Linked DNA regions of Homo sapiens. The protein of the gene in region 4 interacts with the protein of the main gene of each other region in a pairwise test. Each region holds a gene or a part of one and is shown on either strand. Other genes may lie near its edges. The genes, in order: TOMM34, PLEKHA4, RAD54B, PRKAA1, MORC4 and KIF16B.

Region 1 (3,950 bases), on a different chromosome or scaffold from region 4:
TTATCTCAGAATCCACCACTAGATTTAGCACGTTATATTAGTTCCCAACTTTTTTAATTTTTAGAGACAGCGTCTCCCTCTGTTGCCCAGGCTGAAGTGTAGTAGCACAATCATAGCTCACTGCAGCCTCAAACTCTTGGGCTCAAGTGATCTTCCCAGCTCAGCCTACCAAGCAGATAGGACTACAGGTGTGTACCCCCAAGCCCAGTTAATTTTTAAAGTTTTTGTAGAGACAGAGTCCCACTGTGTTGCCCAGGTTGGTCTTGAATGCCTAGCCTCAAGTGATCCTCCCGCTTTGGCCTCCCAAAGTGTTGGGATTATAGGCATGAGCTATGGCACCCAACCCTTAAAAATTTTTTTGATAAGCTAAAACTCCAGCCATCCCCATCCTTATCCCTGTGCTCCCTCCCCAGACTCACAGAGGCCAGTACAATCCTGAAGTTGGTATGTAACATTTTCAAGCATGTTCTACATTTACATATATATGTATATATGTATATGTATATATGTATACATGTACATGTATATATATGTATATGTATATATATGTGTGTGTGTGTGTGTGTGTTAACAGGAAAGATACCATTTTATGTCTATTAAAGCATTTCCTAAGAGGCATCATATTGCCTATCCTTCTGCAACTTACTTTTTTCACTCAGTATCCTGTTGCCATGTTGATATTTGATATCTTTCATTCAATACCAACAATAACAAGCGTTTTCCCCTCTTGTTTTGCCAGGCCCAGAGACGGAAAGTACAAAGACTAGTAAAATACATCCTTGCCCTTAAGGAGCTAAGTACCCAAAACCTGTAATCCATCTTGAGTCACCAGAGTACGGTTGCTCAGAAACAGCAGTGGTGCGGTGGAAAGGGCATCAACCCTGCGATCCGGACAAGTCACTCCATCCCTCTGATCATGCGTGCCCACCTACCACATGAGGATATCACTTCATAGACTTGCTGGAAGGGTTCATTGTGTTAGCCTGTTCCCTGAGCTCTCTTCGTGATCAAGAAGACTGATCAGATAAATCAAGAGACTTGCCCAAAATTACCTAGGAAATCTGTAGCAGCAGCAGAACCAAACTCCGGTCCTTGCTAAATCTAGATACCAGGCTAGCTTTTCTATGGACCCAGAATTAACCCATACAAATGTACAAGCTTTTCCAGACCAGCTGGGGTGAGATGAATGAAAATGGCAGCAACATCAATACCTCAGCTTCTTCAGCAACTTCATCAAGTAAGGCTGCCATGAGGAAGTGGGCCTAAAGGAGAGTTTTCTAGAACAAAGAAGGGGGCAAAGGAGTGGCTTGAAACTGCAAAAAGTGCAGACAAAAAAAAAAAAAAAAAGAATGAAATCTGGAGAGGATGTGAGGAGAGGTCTAGCAAAATGATTAAAAATTTGGACTTAGCATCAAAGTCAAACAGATCCATATTCAAATCGTGGCTCTTCCATGTCTTCACTATGTAACCCCGAGGGAGCCAATTTAACTCTCTTGGACTCCTCCTTTCTAAGCATTTTATCCACAGGGCCATAATAAAGATCAAAGGAGATCGTGTCTAAAATGTCTAGCACATGGTAAATCACTCAAGAGATGCTAGCCAAGAAAAGGAAAAAAAGGAAGGCGGCAAAGGGAAATAGGTACTGAACGGTGACTCACAGAAACCAGGATCCAAGGCTCCTTTCAAAAGTCAAGGCTTTAACCAATGAGGGTTTCTGATTAAGTCACCCTGGAGAAGGGGCTTTGGGCAAAGGTCTGCGGTATGCTGACGAAAGCTGGACGCTGGGAGAACTGGTAAGAATATGCTATTCTTCTGTTTCAAACTCTCCAGTAGCTTCCCATCCAGCAGCTTTCATGCCAAGCTTCCAGTTTGGCATGAAATCCGAACTCCTTAGCAGAGTTTACAACACCTCCACAATAAATAAGGGTCTGCCTTCCTAACTGACCTCATGTCTTCCTATTCCCTGCCCTGGCTCACTATGCTTTGACCCCTGAAACACACCATGTTTATATCGTCTTGGAGGGGGGGCCTTTCTCATTGCAGTTCACTTCAGGACCGAAAACCTTGTGCGCTTGGCTTCTCATCATTTAGACATCACCTCAAATATCACTTCTTTACAGATGTTGCCCTTGATCTCCCACTCCAGTCAACTCTATCACATCACCCTATTTGTCTTCTTCCTAACCCTGATTATCCCACAGGTCTCGTTTACTTACTGACTCGCTTAAGACTCACGTCCTCCCCACCGCCCCCACAAGAATGCGCTGTCCTTGAGAGAAGGGACTTTTTGTGTCTTGTTACACAGGCGGTATATAACAGCTACTCAACAAATACTAACTGAAAAATGAATTGCTGCGGGGGAGGAGGGTTTAGCTTTCTTCTCAGGGCTCAGAACGAGGCCTAAATAACTTAGGATGGGGGCCAACAGGGCAGTTAACAAGCAGGTGGAAAGAAAGGGCCGAGGAAGTTTCTGGTAGGATGCCGGAGTCGGAAGGGGCTGGAAGGGTGGGAGGGCCGGGCAGGACTGCTGGCCGCCGCGCGAGGCCCGGGCGGTGGTTGCGGGAGTTGGAGGAGCAGGCCCGGAGGTGAGATGGGGGCCGGGGTCGTACCTTGCGCCTGCAGCACCCGCAGCGCGCGGCCGTAGAGCGCGGAGGCCTCGGCGTACTGGCCGTTGCGGAAACTCTCATTGCCGGCGGCGCGGAGCTCCTCCACAGAGTCTGGGAATTTGGGGGCCATCCCGTGGCCAGGCCGGCGAGTTGGGAGCTCCTTCCTTCCTCCCCCGTGTGGTGCGGCACACCTTCCGGGCGCAAGCGCCGGCGGCGAATATCTCCGCCCAACAGCGAACCCGCGGCGAGGGGGCGGGGCCTGCGAGACCTGGAGGCCCGGAGCGTCCCGCCCTCTGCGCGTGCTCGGTTTGGAACTTAGGCTCCCTTGCACGCGGGGCGGCAGCATGCTCTGGGCTCCCTGAGTTGCTAGAACGCCGTGGATGACGCAGGGAAGGAGGCTGGCCCCGCTATCAGGGAGATTATGTCCTAGTGGGGTCCCCACAGGCAATTAACTGATAAGCAAACGAAGACTCTCATTTCATGTGATTAGTGCTGTAAGGAAAACAAAACAGGATAATGCAATGGAAAGTGACCACGTGTGGGCTATTTTAAATAAGGGGATGAAGGAAGGCCTTTCTCAGGGGGTAATAGTTGAGCTGAGACCAGACAAGATTTAGGGAATGCTGTTCCAGCCAGAGGGATGGTAAGTGCAAAGGTTCCAAGGCTAGAAAGTACCTGGTACCTAGTGCTCTATAGATATTTATTTAATAAATTAATGCACAGGTGGATTGATGGTGTCAAAGTCAACATATAGAGATGAATCTCTAAAGTTTAAATATTTTATTTGGCAATCAAGAATTGCAATTCAGGGCTTACACACAGACCAGGTTGTCTTTGGTATGTCAGAAGAACAAAGAGAAGGTTTGGAGATTTTTATAAAACAGAAATGTTACATATTGCTCTTCAAGGAAGTTTACAGGCACTAGTAAAGTGGGGGTTTATCAGCTTCTTGGGGAGCTGGCAAGCTTTGATTGGTAAGTGATAGTGGTGGATAAAACTCAGAATTGTAGCAGGCTGTTTCAGTAGCTATTAGATAAAACTGGTTTTAGGTTACAGCAGGCAGTTTTAGCAGCCAGGCTTGCAAAAAATTACTTTTTTGGAGCAATGTTATATGCCCTGAGTATTTGTTCCCCTGGCTTTTCAATTCTGTCTTAGTTGGATATGACAAGAATGACCCAATTCGTATGATCAGCTTTCAGAATGGATGAAGATCTTTCACAGAGTGTGACTTCAATTTATCTCCAGCCTCATCTGACGACTCTATGTCCCACGCATTGCTATCTACACACACTAAATTCTTGCTTCCTAGCCTTTGCTTGTTATCTCCTTCTCCTGGATTTTTTT
Region 2 (3,500 bases), on a different chromosome or scaffold from region 4:
CACCGCCCAGCCCCAGCCCTCCTCCCCTCACCCTTTGCTCCACGTCAGGCTGGCGTCTGGCTGGGGACAGTGTCCTTCCCAGGGTGAGAAGCCGGGGGGAGGTCGGGCGAGGGAAGGGCCGTCCACATTCCTGGTTTCTGCGCATCCGCTCCAGCTGCTCCTGGGCACTCATCCGGGGCCGGGCCACCGGGGCCTAGGGAGGCGAGAAACGTCCCAAGACCCAACCTTTAGGCCAGGCACAGTGGCTCGTGTAATCCCAGCACTTTTGGGAGGCTGAGTAGAGAGGATCACTTGAGGTCAGGAGTTGAAGACCAGCCTGGCCAACTTGGCGAAATACCATCTCTACTAAAAATACAAAAATTAGCTGGGCGTGGTGGCAGGCACCTGTAATCCTAATTACTCAGGAGGCTGAGGCAGGAGAATTGTTTGAACCCCAGAGGTGGAGGTTGCAGTGAGCCGAGATCACGCCACTGCACTCCAGCTGCACAACAGAGCAAGACTCTGTCTCAAATATATATATATATATATGTTGCTTAAACAAGGAGAGAGGGAGAAGGCCGGGTGCAGTGGTGGGTGACTGTAATCCCAGAGCTTTGGGAGGCTGAGGTGGGAGGATCACTTGCGGCCAAGAGTTTGAGACCAGCCTGGGCAACATAGCAAGACCCCATCTCTACAAAAAATAAACTTGTTAGATGTGGTGGTGGATGCCTGTCAGCTACTCAAGAGGCTGAGGCAGGGGGATCACTTAAGCCCAGGAGTTCAAGGCTTCAGGGAGCTATGATCGTGCCACTGCACCTCACTCTGGGTGACAGGGCAAGATCCCGTATCTAAAAGTAAAAAGTAAAGACAGAGAGAGCACTCATTGCTGAAGCTTCCAGTTAAACATCCCAGTGAGATAGCATGGATCTGTGCTTATTGTAGAACCAGTCCCTGCAGTTTCCTCTGCTTTGACCAATCCTGAGTCCTGTTTATATAAATGATGGCCAGTGGCCACTGTATATTACCCTATGTTGTTAATTTATTTTCTTTTTTTTTTTTTTTTTTTGAGACAGAGTCTCGCTTTGTCACCTAGGCTGGAGTGCAGTGGCGCAATCTCTGCTCACTGCAACCTCCGCCTCCTGGGTTCAAGCACTTCTCTGCCTCGGCCTCTCAAGTAGCTGGGATTGAGTAGGTGGCACCCGCCACCACGCCCAGCTAATTTTTTTGTATTTTTAGTACAGACAGGGTTTCACCATCTTGGCCAGGCTGGTCTTGAACTCCTGATCTCGTGATCCACCTGCCTCGGCCTCCCAAAGTGCTGGGATTACAGGCGTGAGCCACCGCGCCCAGCCAATGTTGTTAATTTCTTCACAGCAGGCCAGACCATTGGCCTAAAAGCTTGGTAGCAGCACACTCAGATTTCTACACATCCAATTGTTTTAAACATAGTCTTAATAAGCAGGTATTTTTAGCTATGCAGTCTGCCTGCTTTGTATACCCTGAAACTGTGCCCAACATCTGCTACCCATAGATAAGATGAGCCCCAAGCCCCTGCTGCTCTTTGGACCTCTCTGATCCAGAGAAACCTCCACATGCTGGTGGCTGGCATCACCCAGAAGTAAGCCCCTTCTCCAGTCCCTTTCTCTTGGGAGCTCCCTTGCCTTCCTCCCTTCCTGTGCAGTGGTCCTCACCCTCACACAGTAACCTCTGGAGGGTCTCACACTGGGTGTGACTCCCCCATAGACAAATCTGTCAGTGTCCACCAAATAAAGCTCCTGTGTGCTACTGCCATCTGGTGGTCATAGCTTTTTCTTTGCTAAACCCTGAAATCCCTGGAACTCACTAGACCACCCCTGTGCTCTGGACCTTGGCAGCCCCTGAAACCACCCGGTTGGGGTGAGGGAGGAGCATGTCCCAAGATAAGTGATGTTCCCAGCAGGCTCCAATCATCCATGCCCATGACACACCACTGAGAATCAAAAAGTGCCTCTCCTCTCTTCCTAGGAAAGGCTCGATTGCTTTTGTATCCATGATAACAAGTAAGCACAAGAAATGCCTTCTTTTTTTTAAATTATTTTATTTTATTTTATTTTATTTTTGAGATGGAGTTTCACTCTTATTGCCCAGGCTGGAGTGCAATGGCACGATCTTGGCTCACTGCAACCTCTGCCTCCCAGGTTCAAGCGATTCTCCTGCCTCAGCCTCCCGAGTAGCTGGGATTACAGGCATGTGCCACCACGCCTGGCTAATTTTTTTGTATTTTTAGTAGAGACGGGGTTACACTATGTTGGTCAGGCTGGTTTCGAACTCCTGACCTTGTGATCCGCCTACCTTGGCCTCCCAAAGTGCTGGGATTACAGGCGTTAGCCACCGCACGCGGTCTTTTTTCTTTTTTTTTTTTAAAGACATGGTTTCCCTCTGTTGCCCAGGATGGAGTGCAGTGGTGCAATCATGGCTCAGTGCAGGCTTGACCTCCTGGACTCAAGCAATCCTCACGTCTCAACCTCCCAAGCAGCTGGGACCACAGGTGGGCACCACCACGCACAGCTAACTTTTTATTTTTTATTTTTTTATTTTTTGAGATGGAGTCTTGCTCTGTCACCCAGGCTGGAGTGCAGTGGCGCAGTATCAGCTCACTGCAATCTCAGCCACCCAGGTTCAAGCGATTCTCCTGTCTCAGCCTCCTAAGTAGCTGGGATTACAGGTGCGTGCTGCTACACCCGGCTAATTTTTGTATTTTTAGTAGAGATGGGTTTTTGCCACGTTGGCCAGGGTGCTCTTGAACTCCTGACCTCAGGTGATCCACCCGCCTCGGCATCCCAAAGTGCTGGGATTACAGGTGTGAGCCACTGCACCTGGCCACAGCTAACTTTTTATTATTTTTTTGTAGAGATGGGTCTTGCTACGTTAGCCAGGCTGCTCTTGAACGCCTGGACTCAACTGATCCACCTACCTTGGCCTCTCAAAGTGTTGGGATTACAGGCATGAGCCAATACCACTGGCCAAGAAATGCCTTATTTATTTTATTATTATTATTATTATTATTATTATTATTATTATTATTATTATTATTTTCGAGACAGAGTCTCGCTCTGTTGCCCAGGCTGGAGTGCAACGGTGCAATCTTGGGTCTTTGCCACCTCTGCCTCCTGGGTTCAAGCGATTCTCCTGCCTCAGCCTCCCAAGTAGCTGGGATTACAGGCACCCGCCATCACGCTCGGATAATTTTTGTATTTTTGTAGAGACAGGGTTTTCACCATGTTGGTCAATCTGGTCTCAAACTCCTGACCTCAAGTGATCTGCCTGCCTCGGCCTCCCAAAGTGCTGGGATTACAGGTACGAGCCACGGTTCCCAGCCCCAAGAAGTGCTTTTAAATCTATTTGATCAAGTAATCCCAACAGGTACCCCAAAGACTTCTGAAAGCCAGCCAATCAGTGATGGAGCCAAGCTTCTGAAAATCAGCCAATCAGTGATGGTCACATGCTTCTGAGGGCTGGCCAATCAGTGATGGATCCGTACT
Region 3 (3,500 bases), on a different chromosome or scaffold from region 4:
AAAGATAGAGGTGCTAAGAAAACTGAAAGCTGGAATGCTAAAATTGCTAATAGCTTGTGATAATGCATCAGGCTCAGTTGGCCATCATTGCATAATACCTAGGAAAAAAAAAAAACCAGTATGTGAAACAAAGTTTAAGAGTAAAAGAAAAGCTTCTAGCGACTGAGATGTTTGAAAGAGTCACCTTTGGATCAAGATCATCTATGGATCTAAATGAAATGAGAGATCTTGGAATTAGAGCTACTTTAAAGGTACCTCAAAGTTAAAAGGTTATTCTTGTCTTCCATTTCCATGTAAAACTGAGATTAACAGTAATTGGATTTTATGTGAAGATAAAACTATAATCTTCATTAATTTGGATAAGTGAAGACCAATACTGATTTGGGATGGAGTGATGGGTCTTTGACATTGAGCTAAGTAATTTCTTCCTATATCAGAGCATTACAATTAAAAAGTATTCCACCATAAATAATTTAAGACTATATATTAAATACAGATTGGCACAGATTATAAATTTTAGGCCAGTTTCAGTAGAGAAAATTTTAGTAATTTTCAACTACTTGAAAAGGGTCATCATATTTTCTAAAATGTGGCAGTCTTTTATTATTATTTTTAGAGACTTAAAAGTTTCTGGTATACACAGCTCCTTTGCTTGGTAATGGCACAATAACTACACATTTAATAGTTTAATGCATTTAATAGACAAGCATGGAAGTCTAAAATGCCATCTATGTGGTTAGTGAACTCATTTTAAGCAGCCCATGACTGACTTATCCATACTTATATTTCATCAGCACCTTTACACAGCAACACTTAATAAATGTTCATCAAATTAATAATAATTCAAACAAGCTTAATATTACAAAATATTCCATGTTTTATTAAAGAGTTAGAACATGGAATATCTGTGACCTCTTGCCACAACTGTATTTTAACTTTGCTATCTCATGTGGAACAGTCAGTACTAGTTGTGGTAGCAGTTGCTTTTATTGCTAGTTCTCCTTCACATTTCTAGCTGTTTCTAAGTGAAAATAGAGGTACCATGATGTTTCTGTAGTTTATTTACAAGAAAGGAGGATACATATAGCCTATCAAACTATTTTCTTGGCTTAATTTTTCCGGACAAGAGATGGCAAAACTATAGAGTACAATAATCTATATTTTCAATAGTAAAAAAATTCTTGCTTTCTCTAAAGCATGGCTAATTTGATAGCTGTATTATTTCTTTTGATTTTCAATGTTTTTTTTAACCAAAATGTTAAATTATGCTTCCATTTTGGCTAATGCATTATATAAGACTATTTACATTCAAAGTGCAGTTTTTTTGTACAGTTACGGGAAGGTGACCGTGGTATCATAGAGTGTCAATTAATTTTTTTCTTTCTTAACTTAAAGGCATTGGTTATAAATTCAAAGAGCTTGAAAAGATTGAAGAGGGCCAAACACTGATGATTTGTGGAAAAGAAATAGAAGTCATGGGTGTAATCTCTCCAGATGACTTCAGCAGTGGCAGGTGTTTTCAGCTTGGAGGAGGAAGTACTGCTATCTCGCATTCTTCTCAGGTTGCCAGGAAATGTTTCTCTAACCCTTTCAAAAGTGTTTGTAAACCAAGTTCAAAGGAAAATAGACAGAATGATTTCCAAAATTGCAAACCACGCCATGACCCATATACGCCAAGTAAGATTTTAAAAATAATTTGAATTTTCTGTTTTTACTGTCAAAATGTTTTTTGTGTGTGAATTTGAAGTTTAAATTTTGTTTTAAAAGTTTTAGGTGAAAGTATACATTATTCTTGAGATATATAATCTGACATAAGAGATAATGTTGAAGTCAAATAACAATATAGTTTGGGAATTATTTCATATGTAAATGAATAATTCTAAGAATACAGTAATAAAAATACTGTACATGTGTTGAAGGAAACATATCTAAATTGTATGTGTATACATTACACATACATGTGTATAATTTTGAATAAAATCTGACTTTTTAGTAAGGAGAGAAATTAGTAAATGTATTAATCTGGACTATGATTATACTTCTAATTTGAGGACTGTATGCCTTGATCACAAGCATTAGTGTGTAAAAATATTGAATGGTAAGATTTCATGCAAAGTCCAAATTTTACTAGTGAAAGTTCCATTCAATCAGTTAATTTTCACACTGATGAATGCAATTTTAAAAATCACATTAAAAAAAAAGAAACCTAGATTGTATCTGATTGTTCTTTTGACTGTTCACTCAGCAGGTATTTCTTGATTGCCTTTTATGGGTTGGGCCTAAAGATAAAACTGTCATCACAGAGCTTCTCATTTGGTGAGGGGAAGGACAAGTAATCCGAATCAAAGTATAGTGTAGTAGATGTGAAAGTTGAGACATAGAGGTGACTTCTTTCCTCACAACAGCAAGTATATAAAGTAATGATTATTTTTCCCCATTGCAAGTATTATGGAAACATAAGTTTTGAAGTAAAGAGGCCTTTGAGATCATTTAGATTCGTCTCTTCACTTTGCATTGGAGAAAACTGAGGCCCAGGAAGATGAACCGACTTACCTAAATACAAATAATCAACGGCATTATTGGGACAAAACCCCACAATTAAAAATTCTGAGTTCTATATTAGCTTATCCCAAAGACTTAGTTGAAATACAGGCAGTGGAAGCTGATGCAGCTGAATTTTCTCTTTTTGTCCAAATATTTTGTCTGTCCCACCAGCTCTTTTAACAATCCCCCTCCTCTTTATTCTCCTTTCTCTTTGTACTTTTACTATTACACAATACAGGGCTGTGGGGAACTGAAAAGAATACTGTGCTTATTCAGAGATCTGAGTAAGAATCATGGTTTTGCCACTGAACTAACTGGTTCTTTGACCTCTTGGGGGTAGTCACTAACCTTCCTAATGTTTTGCCTACTCATGTGTAAAACGTGGGTCCTAATAACCACCGTAGAGATTTAGAGTGTCTAGTATATACTCTTTCCAGGAAATACTTGTTGAGTGAGTGAATGAAACATTTTATTGTGGCATTTATGTGTTGTGTGTATGTGATGTAAATGTATATATATGTGTACATGTGAATTTTATATATATGTGTGTGTGTGTGTGTGTGTGTGTAAAAGCACTTCAGGTAAATAGTAAATGGTTAATTATTCTTATGTATTTATCTTAGCCAAGGATAGAATTAGGTTGTAGACTTTAATGCCTCAGACATGTTGTTAATATTAAATGATCGTCTTCATCATTGTGAAGATAAAGAAACATCTTAAAATTTGAACTAGTGTTCTATGATTTTGACTGTTTAGGTTTCTCTTTCTTGAAGATGGGCCTTTTATTAGGTGATTTATAATCCTATAGTCCTTTTTGCTTGGGCAGTATGTGATTTTTCACCTCTATCTTCTCTTTTTCCTTGTTGTCCTTTTTAAAAGATAGAAAAATAACGGGGCCATTTCTTGACTGGAAATCCACAAGGAGCACACTCTTACTTTGCTACAGTGATATAGAG
Region 4 (3,500 bases):
AAAATTAACAATTTTTAAAAGGTCCTATTTAATTGGTTCCTCCTTTTCTTCCCCCCTCCCCACAACAGCGTATATAGCGCCATTACTTAATTCCATATACAAATTTGTAACTTTAAAAATACAGTCTTCTGTTAACATCAGGAACATTATGCTGCACTTAGAGACCCTAAGTAAAATTAGAATCCCCTAAAGAGAGGGCCACATAAAAAGTAAATACAGTTTTGAACTCATATTTAAATGGAACTTCTATTACTTTGTACAGCTTTCAAATTAGAAGTTGAATAGAACAAGCCCTGGACAAAAAGCAGCAAGATTTTTCTTTTGAATTCAGTGCATGATTCTAGAAGTGCTTGAGTCAAATCTACTAGAGTCACCATTTATGCAAGCTATCATGACATTTGAGTTCATTATCATCTGGTTACATAAGTGCTCACTGTATTTGCCAAAAATAATCCTAAAATATGATTCTTAAAATAGAAAAAATATAGCTCTGTTGCAATGGGAAAATGATTAATACAAAAAAATCAATTTCTTAAAGTTAACATAAGGCAAATATAAATGATACAATATTATCATACACGATACCAATTTTATCTGAGGTGACTACATCTTCATTTACATCTATTGTGTGATGCAATTAAGAATGACAAAAAAAAATATCAGTGTAAATCAGAAATCTTAGGAAAATCCAGTATCTTTAAAAAGTAATTTAAGCCCAAAACAAATGTGACCACTTATTAATAGAATTGATTTGTTCCATATTTTATCAAAATAATAATAATGTTATATCCAACTAAAGAGTTATAACCAAGTGTCATATGTAAACTTTAATTGGATCCTAGTTTGAAATAATCAGCTATAAAGAAATTTGGAGTTAACTTCAGAAATTTAAATATGGCTTGATTAGATGATATTGGGGAATTATTACTTTTACAATGGTATTACGGATTTTTAGGAGAATGTCATTATCTGTAGGAGATACTTGAAGTATTTTCACGGTGATAAGTATGTCTGTAACATCCAAATGGTTCAGGGGGAAAAAAGCATATATACATACACAAACAAACACATATATGCATATATATGCATAACTAGCTGTATCTATACATATATAGGTATAGAGAAAACAAATGACAAAACATTAACAACTGCTGAATCTAAATGGTAGATATACATGTGCTTACCAAACAGTTTTTCAATTTTTCTGTTTTTAAAAATGTTCATAATAAAATTTGGGGGGGAAGTCATATCAGAGCACTTAAAGTTTGTAAGAGATAGTTTTCTATGCACTGAATCAATTTAAAAGATACATAATCAAATAAGTAGCAATGTGTGCATATACTCAATAATGACTGACATGATGGGCCAGAGGAATTTGTGAAATTGGCAAAAATAATATGATTTATCTACAGTATATGCAACTCAGCTCTTGTAACAAAAAGAACATTTTGTGTACAGAATATCGTGGGAATATTTTAAGACTAAAATTAGTGCTAGAGTATCTGAATATATAAATTCTGTGTTTTTGGACTTGTAAAGCTAAAATGAAATTTAAATTAGGTCTGATATCTGATATGACTTACCATACACTACAGAATTTTAAAAGGGGGATATGGAGGCCGGGTGCGGTGGCTCACGCCTGTAATCCCACCACTTTGGGAAGCTGAGGTGGTGGATCACGCGGTCAGGAGTTCGAGACCAGCCTGGGCAACATAGTGAAACCCCGTCTACACTAAAAATACGAAAAATTAGCCGGGTGTGGTGGCACACGCCTGTAGTTCCAGCTACTCAGGAAGCTGAGGCGGGAGAATCACTTGAACCCGGGAGGTGGAGGTTGCAGTGAGCCGAGACCACACCATTGCACTCCAGCCTGGGTGACAAAGTGACACTGTCTCAAAAAAACAAAGAGGGAGGGATATGGAAGAAGTTATCCAGACTGTTACTACTGCTGGAAGATACTAGCTATTTATGAAGTTAAGGAGCCCAGAAAACAAAATCACCTATAAAGGTCTTGGGAATTCTAGGCAAATATTTATTGAATAAATTTATAACACGTAATATATAACACGTAATAATATATGAAGGCCTTTATGTAAATTAATATTTCAAAGCCCTGTGTACACTAAATATAAAATAGCCAAAAATCAAGTAAGCCTGAGACCTATAATTCACTGTGTATATTATGCTATATACATACTGCACAATGAACAACAAAATGATCTTAATTCATTTCTGCATATTAGGCTTTTAACTATAAATCATGTTCCAATCCCTGTGCAAATTGCATTCCAAAACGCCAGCCCTCGGTTATAATTATGTATAACTTGATTACAAATGGAAGCATTTGGCTGTGACTTATTATGCATGCTTATTGCTGCAAAAGAAATAAGCAAAGTTTTCTGTTTATTGTGCAAGAATTTTAATTAGATTTGCACACATCTCAAAAAATTCTATTGTGTGACTTCCAGGTCTTGGAGTTAGGTCAACAGGAGAAGAGTCAAGTGAGGTCACAGATGAGGTAAGAGAAACTTCTGAGGATTTTCCTTGAGCCTCAGCATCTGAATCACTCCTTTGGCAAGATCGATAGTTGCTAACTGATCCCGATCTCTGTGGAGTAGCAGTCCCTGATTTGGCTTCTGTAATTTCATCTGGGTAAAAAGAATTTCAATTTATTATAGTCTATGACCTTCTCCCAAAAATTTTTGTAACAGTATTGAATTTGCTTCTTTAAGTGGGGCTGCTGGCCAGCTATCAAGAGCACGCTTATTCTAAATACCTTCTAAAACAGTCAATGAGCCTGTATTAAACTATTCATCTTTTTTACATATAGTATGTATTCTCAAGATAGCTAACCAAAGTTGGGTACAGTATAGCTACTCATCAGTTGCAATCCAAGGTTAAGAGCCCAGTAAACCAACAATCTAGGGATTAATAAATATTATTCTATAGCAATAAAAAGTAATCCCTCTATATTAAAATCATAGAATCGATGCACTTAAAATTTGGAGGGTATACTGGAAACCATCTCATCCAGCCCCTCACTTTATTGATAAGAAAACAAACCCAGAGAAATGACTTGCCCAAGGTAACAAATGAACAGAAAGGTAAGTCTAGAACCCAACTCTCCTAAGTCTCAGCTCAGTGCTTTTTACTTTCCACTTTCCCTTCATATTTCATTTAGTATTTCATAAAAGAGCAACAATTCCAATGAATAAAAATCGAAGAAAAACTAAGGTTGGGAACACAGTACAAAAACAAAATGGGCATTCAATTGGTATACCCCAGTACTAGTAAATCTAAGGTTGCAAATTTGATCCAAATACAAGAAAAATAAAACTCATTCCGTATTTCAGACTGCATTAGTATATGTTAGCAGATACGTACTATATGGACCTAAAGATAACCAGACAAACTGGTTTGGCCAACATATCATGGCTCAAACCTGTGTCTTTCTGCTACTATGTGTGTACTATCTTTGAGTTTATAAAGAAGAAAAAAAT
Region 5 (3,500 bases), on a different chromosome or scaffold from region 4:
GCATTCTATATGTTACCTCGACTCTTCTCAGACTCCCTTCCCATTAAACCAAATTACCTTCCGATATTATAGTTTGGACTAAACAGATTTACTGTAGACATGAGTAAAATGAAAGTCCTAATAAAATTTCCCCCAAGGTCACTGAGGAACAAGATCATTGATACTAACTTACTTACTTCTCAATTATCAAAGGCCACTTCTTTCATCTTTGTTCTCTCTCCTTATGCTAATTTGGTGTCTCCTACCCCACTGTACCCTCACTCCATAATTTAGAATTTTAAAAGTGCACAACAGAAAGAAAAATTTGACAGTCTTTATCTTTACAAAGATAATTTTATGGCATAGGATTTTGGTTTGTTTGCTTGCAGGAGTTTTGTCTTGTTTTGTTTTTGCGTTAGAATAGGTCTTATTTGAGGTTTTATATGAACTGCTAGAGCCCAGAACATTATATATTCTGAGCCAAACATTACTGTGTTATGCACCCACTTGAGTCATGTCTTTGTATCATATGTGACCCATTTGTTATAGGGTTTTGATGCAAGTAGCTTGTCTTTTAGAGGGGGCATGGAGATCATTTTTTGAATAAGTAACAAAAGTAAATTTTCATTCAACTCATTTAGACATGAAGGTTTCTTAGTATTTGTTTTAATGAAAATCTCAGTTTCTCTATCTCCCCTTTATCTTTCTCACTTACTTACCTTGGTTTTTAAATTAAGTAGGACTTGTTAAAAACTCATCATTATTCATGTTTTACTTATAATAATCAGTTGTCTTCATTTCATTTATCCAAGCTTGTTAACTTCTTCCCATGAAATATATCACTACAGGACTATTCATTGTTCTTTACCTTTGCTTTTGCTTTCATTGTGTTTGGTATGGTAAGAAGGATTTACCTTATTGGATATAATTGTACAGATTTGTATTGGACCATTTACAGCTCTTATCAGAACCTATGTGCCCTAGCAGCAAACTGAGCAACTAGCAAGGGCTAAGAAATGTTTTATGATTATTTGTCAATTTTTAAATCACTGATGGTATTTAGGTATCTTTTCTTACAGTCTTTCTATGCATGTGTGTGTGTGTGTGTGTGTGCGTGTGTGTGTGTGATGTTTTTATAATCTGAGCGTTTCCTGATATTCTCAAATATTTCAAGGACATAATTTTAAAAGAGATGCATATGGCTATATCAACATTTATTTAATCATTTCTTTATTGTTGAACATTTAAATTATTTCTGTTTCTCTGCTTTTATAACAAATTGAAAAACCTCTGTAATTCCTTAACGTTTGTGGGCCTCCCTGACTGTTTCTGTGGGATAAATTCTTAAAAAGAGAATTACTTGGTCAAATATTAAGAATATTCTTAAAGCTATTGCAACAGATGTTTAAATGCCCGCAAAAAGGTTGTACCAATTTATGTCCCTTGGTATTTGATGGTTTTTGCTATAATATGGTGTAAAATTTTGTCGTTGAAGCCCCTGGTATGTTTGTCTCCTTAACGATGTTCTTCTCAGAATAAGCAGGTGAGAATCACCTTTGGGTTCTCTTGCAAGAATAGTAACCAGTTTGGAATAATGATGTATCATAACAACCGACTCATAAAATCTTTTGAGAAGGTGGGGTGCCAGGTGAAGGTGAGTAGTTAATATTTCTTTGTCATAGGAGGCTGAAAAGAGTAGGAAGAGAATTTAAAATTTGCAAAGGGGATAGGCTCATTAATGGCTTTTACTCCCATCTTATGATGCTTATTGAATTCTGATCCTGGAATTGTGTTACCAGTGAGCTGTCTTGTGTTGAAATCTCTTTCTAACTCTCATTCTTCAGCTGTTAATCAACCCAACAACTTTACTGAATGCATTTTCTAAGTAGCTGTCAATAAGAGGCAGAATTAGAATACCAGCAAGCTTACCATGTGTGTCAGCTTATTTGTGTTTTAGGTAACTCCATTTTCTTGGAGAGACAATAAGGCATAGTGGAAGGCATATAAAATATGGTGGTTGAAGACCAGGATTTGGGTCCTGAATTTTCCATTTACAAGCTGTGTAACCTTGGATAAATTGTTTAATTTATCTGAAGCTCAATTTCCTGACCTTTATGTAAAGTGGAAACAACAATAATAAGCATACCTGCTTTGCCTGCCTCACAGCTTACAGGGTTGAGAGATTTAAATGGGATAAATTATGTGAAAATATTTTTTAAACCACTCTATACAAATTTTACCATCATCTTTAATGTCTTAATGATTATTTAAAGTAGTAATGTCTACAAGTATCCCTTTTATTCCTATTTTACAGATAAGATTGCTAAAGCACAAAAAATGATGAACTGCTTCAACATAGTAAGACAGTTATATAAAGCCCAGGATAGCTCGTTTTCAGCCTATTTTGTTTTCCCTTGTTATAGCACCTTTAGACAACTCGTGTTTGTGTTCCAGTCCAATTACACCTTTACTTAGTTTCTTCCATTAAAGAATTAGAATATGATTTAAATCTATAAAACTCTTGCGTCAACTTGTAATTAATAATTGCTGTAAGTGTGACTCTTTAGTAGTTGTTTGGTGGCCTATGTATGTGGGAAAATTGTTTATTTTAATATAGGATCACACAGAACCCTTAAAATTGTTTTCAGATGAATATTTGTTTCAGTTCCTTAGAACAGTAGTATATAACCTTGGTTTTTTAGCACGGTAATTCTTTATTCAAATGCAGTCTTATGGCAGTCCTGGAATATAAAGCAGATAAAAGTGGAGGTAGTGTGGGTGAAGTAGAGATGGCTACTAATTGCAGAAGACTCCTAGGGATCTATGGATCATATTTTGAAAATCTCTGCCCTAGAATTTGTCAGAATTTCTAGTTCAGTTTAATGCTTGCAGTCTGTTGATGTACATTCTAAGTGTTTCTCTAGATCTTGATGGTCTTTTCTTGCCCATGAAGGTTATGTAACCTTTCTATTATTGTTTGGAATCAAAAGGAAATGCCTCCAGGCAGCCAACAGTAATGTAAGTGTTGAAATTAATATTTTCTTCTAAGCCAACTCGTGGAGAAGGTGTAGGAGTAATTGGAGTCATTGAGTGCAATTTCCTAAAACCTGCCTACAACAAACAAGACTTTGAGTATACCAAGGAGTACCGGTGAGTCACTCCCAACCTGAGGTGCTTCCGTTAGTTTGTTCAGATATGATTCTGTTCTCTAAAGCCTCTAAAACCATCTCTAAAAAGCAGCTAAATAAGTTAACTGAGAATTACTTCAAATTTGTTTTCCAAGATTAGAGATAAAATGCTTTCATTTTTAAATTAAAGTTTGCTGAATGATATATGGAGTCTCGTTGAGATAAACCTTACCTTTAGAAATTATGCAAAGAGCATAGGAGTAATTTGGTAAAAGATTTCTGGGGAAATGAAAAGCTTTGGAATTGATCTTAATGGAAACAGATGAATGGATCTGAAGTTATGGAATACATTGGATAAAAAAAAGCAGTTTGAAATTTGTTCCAAAAATTTTT
Region 6 (4,245 bases), on a different chromosome or scaffold from region 4:
CCACCCGTTGGTCAAATTCGCACCCAGCTCTGCTCCAGACAGAGGGAAAACCCAGTGATTTCCGGGCTCTAGAAACAAAGGGAGGCTATGATTCCCTGCTGGCCCTAGGGGTCCAGGGAAGGTTATGGAAAGATAATTCTTTGTGTAAGCGGGTTGCGTACTTGCAGACATCATCCCACTTGATGCATTCACCACTCTATGCCGTTGTTCCTGATTTGCAGATGAGACAAGAAGCCTCAGAGGCGCCCAGTAATTCAGAATTACAGGCTGACAAGGCTAGTGTTGGAGCTAGGACTTAAAAACAGGAGTTCCGCCTCCATTCCTTGCGTCTCCCATTATAGCTTGGCTTCCTGGAATGGCTGCTCCTGTGGCTCGCAGGTGGGCTTCTGGGTGTGCGCAAACGATTTCATGCATGCTCGATTCACTGAATGAATGAATGCATTTACCTTCTACACAGGAAGGGAGGTGGAGCTCACTTCTACCAGAGGCCCTAAGCCTTAAGATACCAGTTGTCGGCCTGGCGCGGTGGCTCACGCCTGTAATCCCAGCATTCTGGGAGGCCAAGGCGGGCGGATCATTTGAGGTCAGGAGTTCGAGACCAACCTGGCCAACATGGTGAAACCCCGTCTCTACTAAAAATACAAAAATCAGCCGGGCGTGGTGGCACGCCCAGCTATTCGGGAGGCTGAGGCAGGAGAATCTCTTGAACCCGGGAGGCGGACGTTGCAGTGAGCCGAGATCGCAGCATTACACTCCAGCCTGGGTGACCGAGCGAGACCCTGTCTCAAAAAAAAAAAAAAAAAAAAAAAAATACCAGTTGTGTTCGCCTTTAACTCCCTTATGATTAAAACTAAAAATTACTAAAGTGTACAAAAGTGCAAAACAAGTCTAAATAAGGTTTGATTCTAGCCAATATAATGACATTCCCGCACACATTTAAAACATCCAACACCCTATTAATTTTCGTTTATCGGTATCCCGAGTTAAGGGGTCCAAAACATACGGTCGGACCTCCTTAGGGTAGCAGAGAAGGCCCTAGCGGAGTTTGCCACCAACAAGCTGTGATCATCTCTGCGCCTCAGTTTGTTCGTGTGTAAAATGGATACGTTAACTCATGTTTGGCTGGGTGAAGCCAGGTTCTTGTTAAGGGCTGAAAAACTGGCTTTGGTCACCTGACCCCAGGACTGTGATCCTTGCCGCTGGCTTTAAATTGCTGCGATCCTCTTCTCTCCAGTTGTTCAGGCCATGAGGGTGGGTTCTAGTTTTCCTGAAACCATCCGCTCCGGGTCGCCCCCATAACCTCTGCGCCAAGGTCCACAACGTGGCCTTTCCAGACTTGCAGATCCCGGAGGCTGCTTCCAGGCCCCGCGGCCCCGCCCCTCTGCACCGCCCGGCCGCCGCCAAACCGTGGCGCATGGATCACGCGGGCCGGAGCCGTTCTGGGCATGCTCAGTGGCCTGGCAGGTGGGGCTGCCGCGGAACTCCAGGTCCGGCCGGGAGCAGAGGGGCGGGGGCGAGAGGGAAGTGGGCGGGAGCCGCGATCTGAGTAGCCAGCGTCGCCGGCGACCGCGGAGTTCTGGGCTAGTGGGACCCCGCGCGGGCTGGTTCGGGATGAGCGATGGCATCGGTCAAGGTGGCCGTGAGGGTCCGGCCCATGAATCGCAGGTGAGTGGGGCCGCCCGCGCCCCGCCCCCTCGTCGCGCCCCCACCCAGAGGAAGCCTGTTTCCAGCTCCCCCAAAGCCAGCCTGGACTTAAAAGTGTCACCGGCTGGTCCCTGGCCCACCGGGCCCAGGCTGTGGCCTCTGGGGGCCTGGAGGACTTCGTGCACTGCTGTCCCGTTCACATTGCCCTGGAGAGGACCCTGGTGGTAAAGGAGAAGATTCTATTAACTCTCTCCATCGTATTAACTTGAGATGTTCTTGTTCCCCCTTTAAAAAAGCATCAAGGGAACGTTACCATGAAGATGTAAAATAGTTGGGGGGAAGGTGAGAGTGCTGAGGGGGGGCACCACGAACTGTCAGGTGAACCCCTCATTTCTACCAACTCAGAAGTTCTCTTAACAATTAACCATGCTACTTTTTAATCTTTCAGTTAGAGATGATTTTGATTCCCTGAATGTCTAATCGATAACTTAGCAGTTCCTAACTTCATGTTAGAGAGTGGATGGGAAAACTTTGACAAAGTCCTGACTCCTAGAAAAAAGTCAGGGACGCTTTACACGTGTTTGAAATACTCTGATATTAAGAGAGAGGAAGAGTGTTACACACAAAATTTAATCTTGTTATATATTTCTACGAAGTAATGCTTTTTCAGAATCCTTCTCTTCATTCACTGAAAAATAGCCTGTGCTCCCTTTTCAATGACCTCTTTTTAATCCGTTTAGAAAGTTTCTTTGGAAAAGTTACTTTTTAAATTGGTTTGACTTCAAAGAATGAGGTAGAAATGGGATGTGTCCTCCAAGGTGACAGGCAAGGTTCACACAGAGCCATTTGATTTTATTGACTTCTCTACCAAGTTGGTGGATATTTGACTTACCATAGGGCCTTTTTGCTTTTGTCATATCAACTTGTGGAGGTTAATGTTTGGTAGTTCTGATGCCTGATTGGGGCAGCCGAAGGCCATAAAATCAAAAGATTTCCAGAACCTTATTTGACTCATCTAAATCTGTTTCTTCTCTTGGCAAGTAGGGAATCATTATTTTGGTTTGTAATCATTAAAACCCAGTGTTTTCAGAATCTGCTTTTTGTGACTTTTGAGTTATTTCTAAAGCTGTTTAGAGTAAGAGTTTGACTTTTTTGCTCTAAGGGAATATTTTTGTTTCTGTGTACATTCCATCATAGAAGATAAACTTTAGAACGATTTTTCTTTATTATGGATTTTCATGTGTATAGAAGTTCTTTTTCTTTTTTGGAAAAAGGTGAACACATGCTAGAAAATTGTATTGTGTAACTTTAGAAAGTATTTGTTAGGCTGGGCGCGGTGGCTCATGCCTGGGAGCCACTTTGGGAGGCCGAGGCGGGCGGATCACAAGGTCAAGAGATGGAGACCATCCTGGCTAACACGGTGAAACCCCTTCTCTACTAAAACTACAAAAAATTAGCCGGGCGTGGTGGTGGACGCCTGTAGTCCCAGCTACTCGTGAGGTTGAGGCAGGAGAATGGTGTGAACCCAGGAGGCAGAGCTGGCAGTGAGCCGACACCGTGCCTCTGCACTCCAGCATCAGTGACAGAGCGAGACTCCCTCTCAAAAAAAAAAAAAAAAGTATTTGTTAAGCACCTACCAAACACATAGCATTCCTCAGGGTGCTGTCTGGGATACAAGGGGAATGAGACCTGGTGAGCCATGGTGAGAGAGGGATTATGTACTGGCATGAATCTTGTGAAGTATTGGGCCTGCTGGGACAGGAACTGTGAGTTCAGTGCCTTGCCAGTGTAGGCCTGGAGCCCAGGTACATGGAGGGATGGCAGGAAATAAGTCCAGAGGCCATGGGCTTTGGGGAGGCAGATTCGCGTGATGTTATTTATATTCTCAGTAGAGAACTCTGGTGGTGTCAAGATTGAGGTAAGAGGCAGGTGATTAGCAGTTTGAGCCAGAGATGAAATTGGAAGGCAGGATAGTTACAGGAAGACCACTCACTGGCAGAATTGGCAGGATTTGGCAGCTCACTGGATGGGAAGAAGGGGGAAGAATGCGAGTGTAGAGTCATTAACTGAGGTTTGATGCTGAAGGAGGTGAACAGGTTTGAGGAAGGTGGACAATGAAGTTGGTATGTTCTCTCTTGGATGTGGAGAGTTACATGAGATGTATTAAGTGTCAAGTACAAGCACAGAGCAAGTGTTTCACGCATGTTGACCTTGTTCATTATCTGAAGTGTGGGAAGGACATCCATCCCTCTGCTAGAGATGTTCAGCAGAAAGCTGAAAATGTGGGTTTAGGTCTCAGGTGATTTGAGGATCGACATTTGGAAATCTTTTGCACATAAACCACAATTTAAGGATGTTACGTGAGAAGAAAAGGGAGCCAGGGATTGGACATTGGGATATGCCCCTCTTTAGGATTTCAGGGAGAAGATTGGCTTGCAGTCCGTAAAGGAGAACCAGCACAGCAAATGGTCATGGCAGGAAAGGGAGAAGAGCATCCTGAAGGAGGTGGTGGGGGTTAGTGTCAAATATTGCCAGGATGATGAGAATAAGATGGTGTCCTTGGTCTTGAAGACAAGGCTAGTTGATAACCTTCCCAACAGT

What was found.
Region 1: the proteins of PRKAA1 (region 4) and TOMM34 interact in a two-hybrid assay, tested with the Homo sapiens proteins (one study listed by BioGRID).
Region 2: the proteins of PRKAA1 (region 4) and PLEKHA4 interact in a two-hybrid assay, tested with the Homo sapiens proteins (one large-scale study listed by BioGRID and IntAct).
Region 3: the proteins of PRKAA1 (region 4) and RAD54B interact in a two-hybrid assay, tested with the Homo sapiens proteins (one large-scale study listed by BioGRID).
Region 5: the proteins of PRKAA1 (region 4) and MORC4 interact in a two-hybrid assay, tested with the Homo sapiens proteins (one large-scale study listed by BioGRID and IntAct).
Region 6: the proteins of PRKAA1 (region 4) and KIF16B interact in a two-hybrid assay, tested with the Homo sapiens proteins (one large-scale study listed by BioGRID and IntAct).

Annotation. Positions count from the first base shown.
Region 1 is NC_000020.11:44,957,598-44,961,547, forward strand, and holds the start of TOMM34 (mitochondrial import receptor subunit TOM34), read right to left. Parts: upstream 2,801-3,950; 5' UTR 2,737-2,800; coding exon 2,610-2,736; intron 1,941-2,609; exon of another isoform or gene 740-1,940; intron 711-739; exon of another isoform or gene 696-710; coding exon of another isoform or gene 647-695; intron 1-646. UniProt on the Homo sapiens protein: Plays a role in the import of cytosolically synthesized preproteins into mitochondria. Binds the mature portion of precursor proteins. Interacts with cellular components, and possesses weak ATPase activity.
Region 2 is NC_000019.10:48,841,118-48,844,617, forward strand, and holds part of PLEKHA4 (pleckstrin homology domain-containing family A member 4), read right to left. Parts: intron 194-3,500; coding exon 32-193; intron 1-31. UniProt on the Homo sapiens protein: Binds specifically to phosphatidylinositol 3-phosphate (PtdIns3P), but not to other phosphoinositides.
Region 3 is NC_000008.11:94,405,616-94,409,115, reverse strand, and holds part of RAD54B (DNA repair and recombination protein RAD54B), read left to right. Parts: intron 1-1,395; coding exon 1,396-1,677; intron 1,678-3,500. UniProt on the Homo sapiens protein: Involved in DNA repair and mitotic recombination. May play an active role in recombination processes in concert with other members of the RAD52 epistasis group.
Region 4 is NC_000005.10:40,760,375-40,763,874, forward strand, and holds part of PRKAA1 (5'-AMP-activated protein kinase catalytic subunit alpha-1), read right to left. Parts: exon of another isoform or gene 2,649-3,500; coding exon 2,404-2,648; 3' UTR 1-2,403. UniProt on the Homo sapiens protein: Catalytic subunit of AMP-activated protein kinase (AMPK), an energy sensor protein kinase that plays a key role in regulating cellular energy metabolism.
Region 5 is NC_000023.11:106,976,213-106,979,712, reverse strand, and holds part of MORC4 (MORC family CW-type zinc finger protein 4), read left to right. Parts: intron 1-1,513; coding exon 1,514-1,633; intron 1,634-3,028; coding exon 3,029-3,129; intron 3,130-3,500. UniProt on the Homo sapiens protein: Histone methylation reader which binds to non-methylated (H3K4me0), monomethylated (H3K4me1), dimethylated (H3K4me2) and trimethylated (H3K4me3) 'Lys-4' on histone H3. The order of binding preference is H3K4me3 > H3K4me2 > H3K4me1 > H3K4me0.
Region 6 is NC_000020.11:16,570,649-16,574,893, reverse strand, and holds the start of KIF16B (kinesin-like protein KIF16B), read left to right. Parts: upstream 1-1,445; 5' UTR 1,446-1,618; coding exon 1,619-1,665; intron 1,666-4,245. UniProt on the Homo sapiens protein: Plus end-directed microtubule-dependent motor protein involved in endosome transport and receptor recycling and degradation.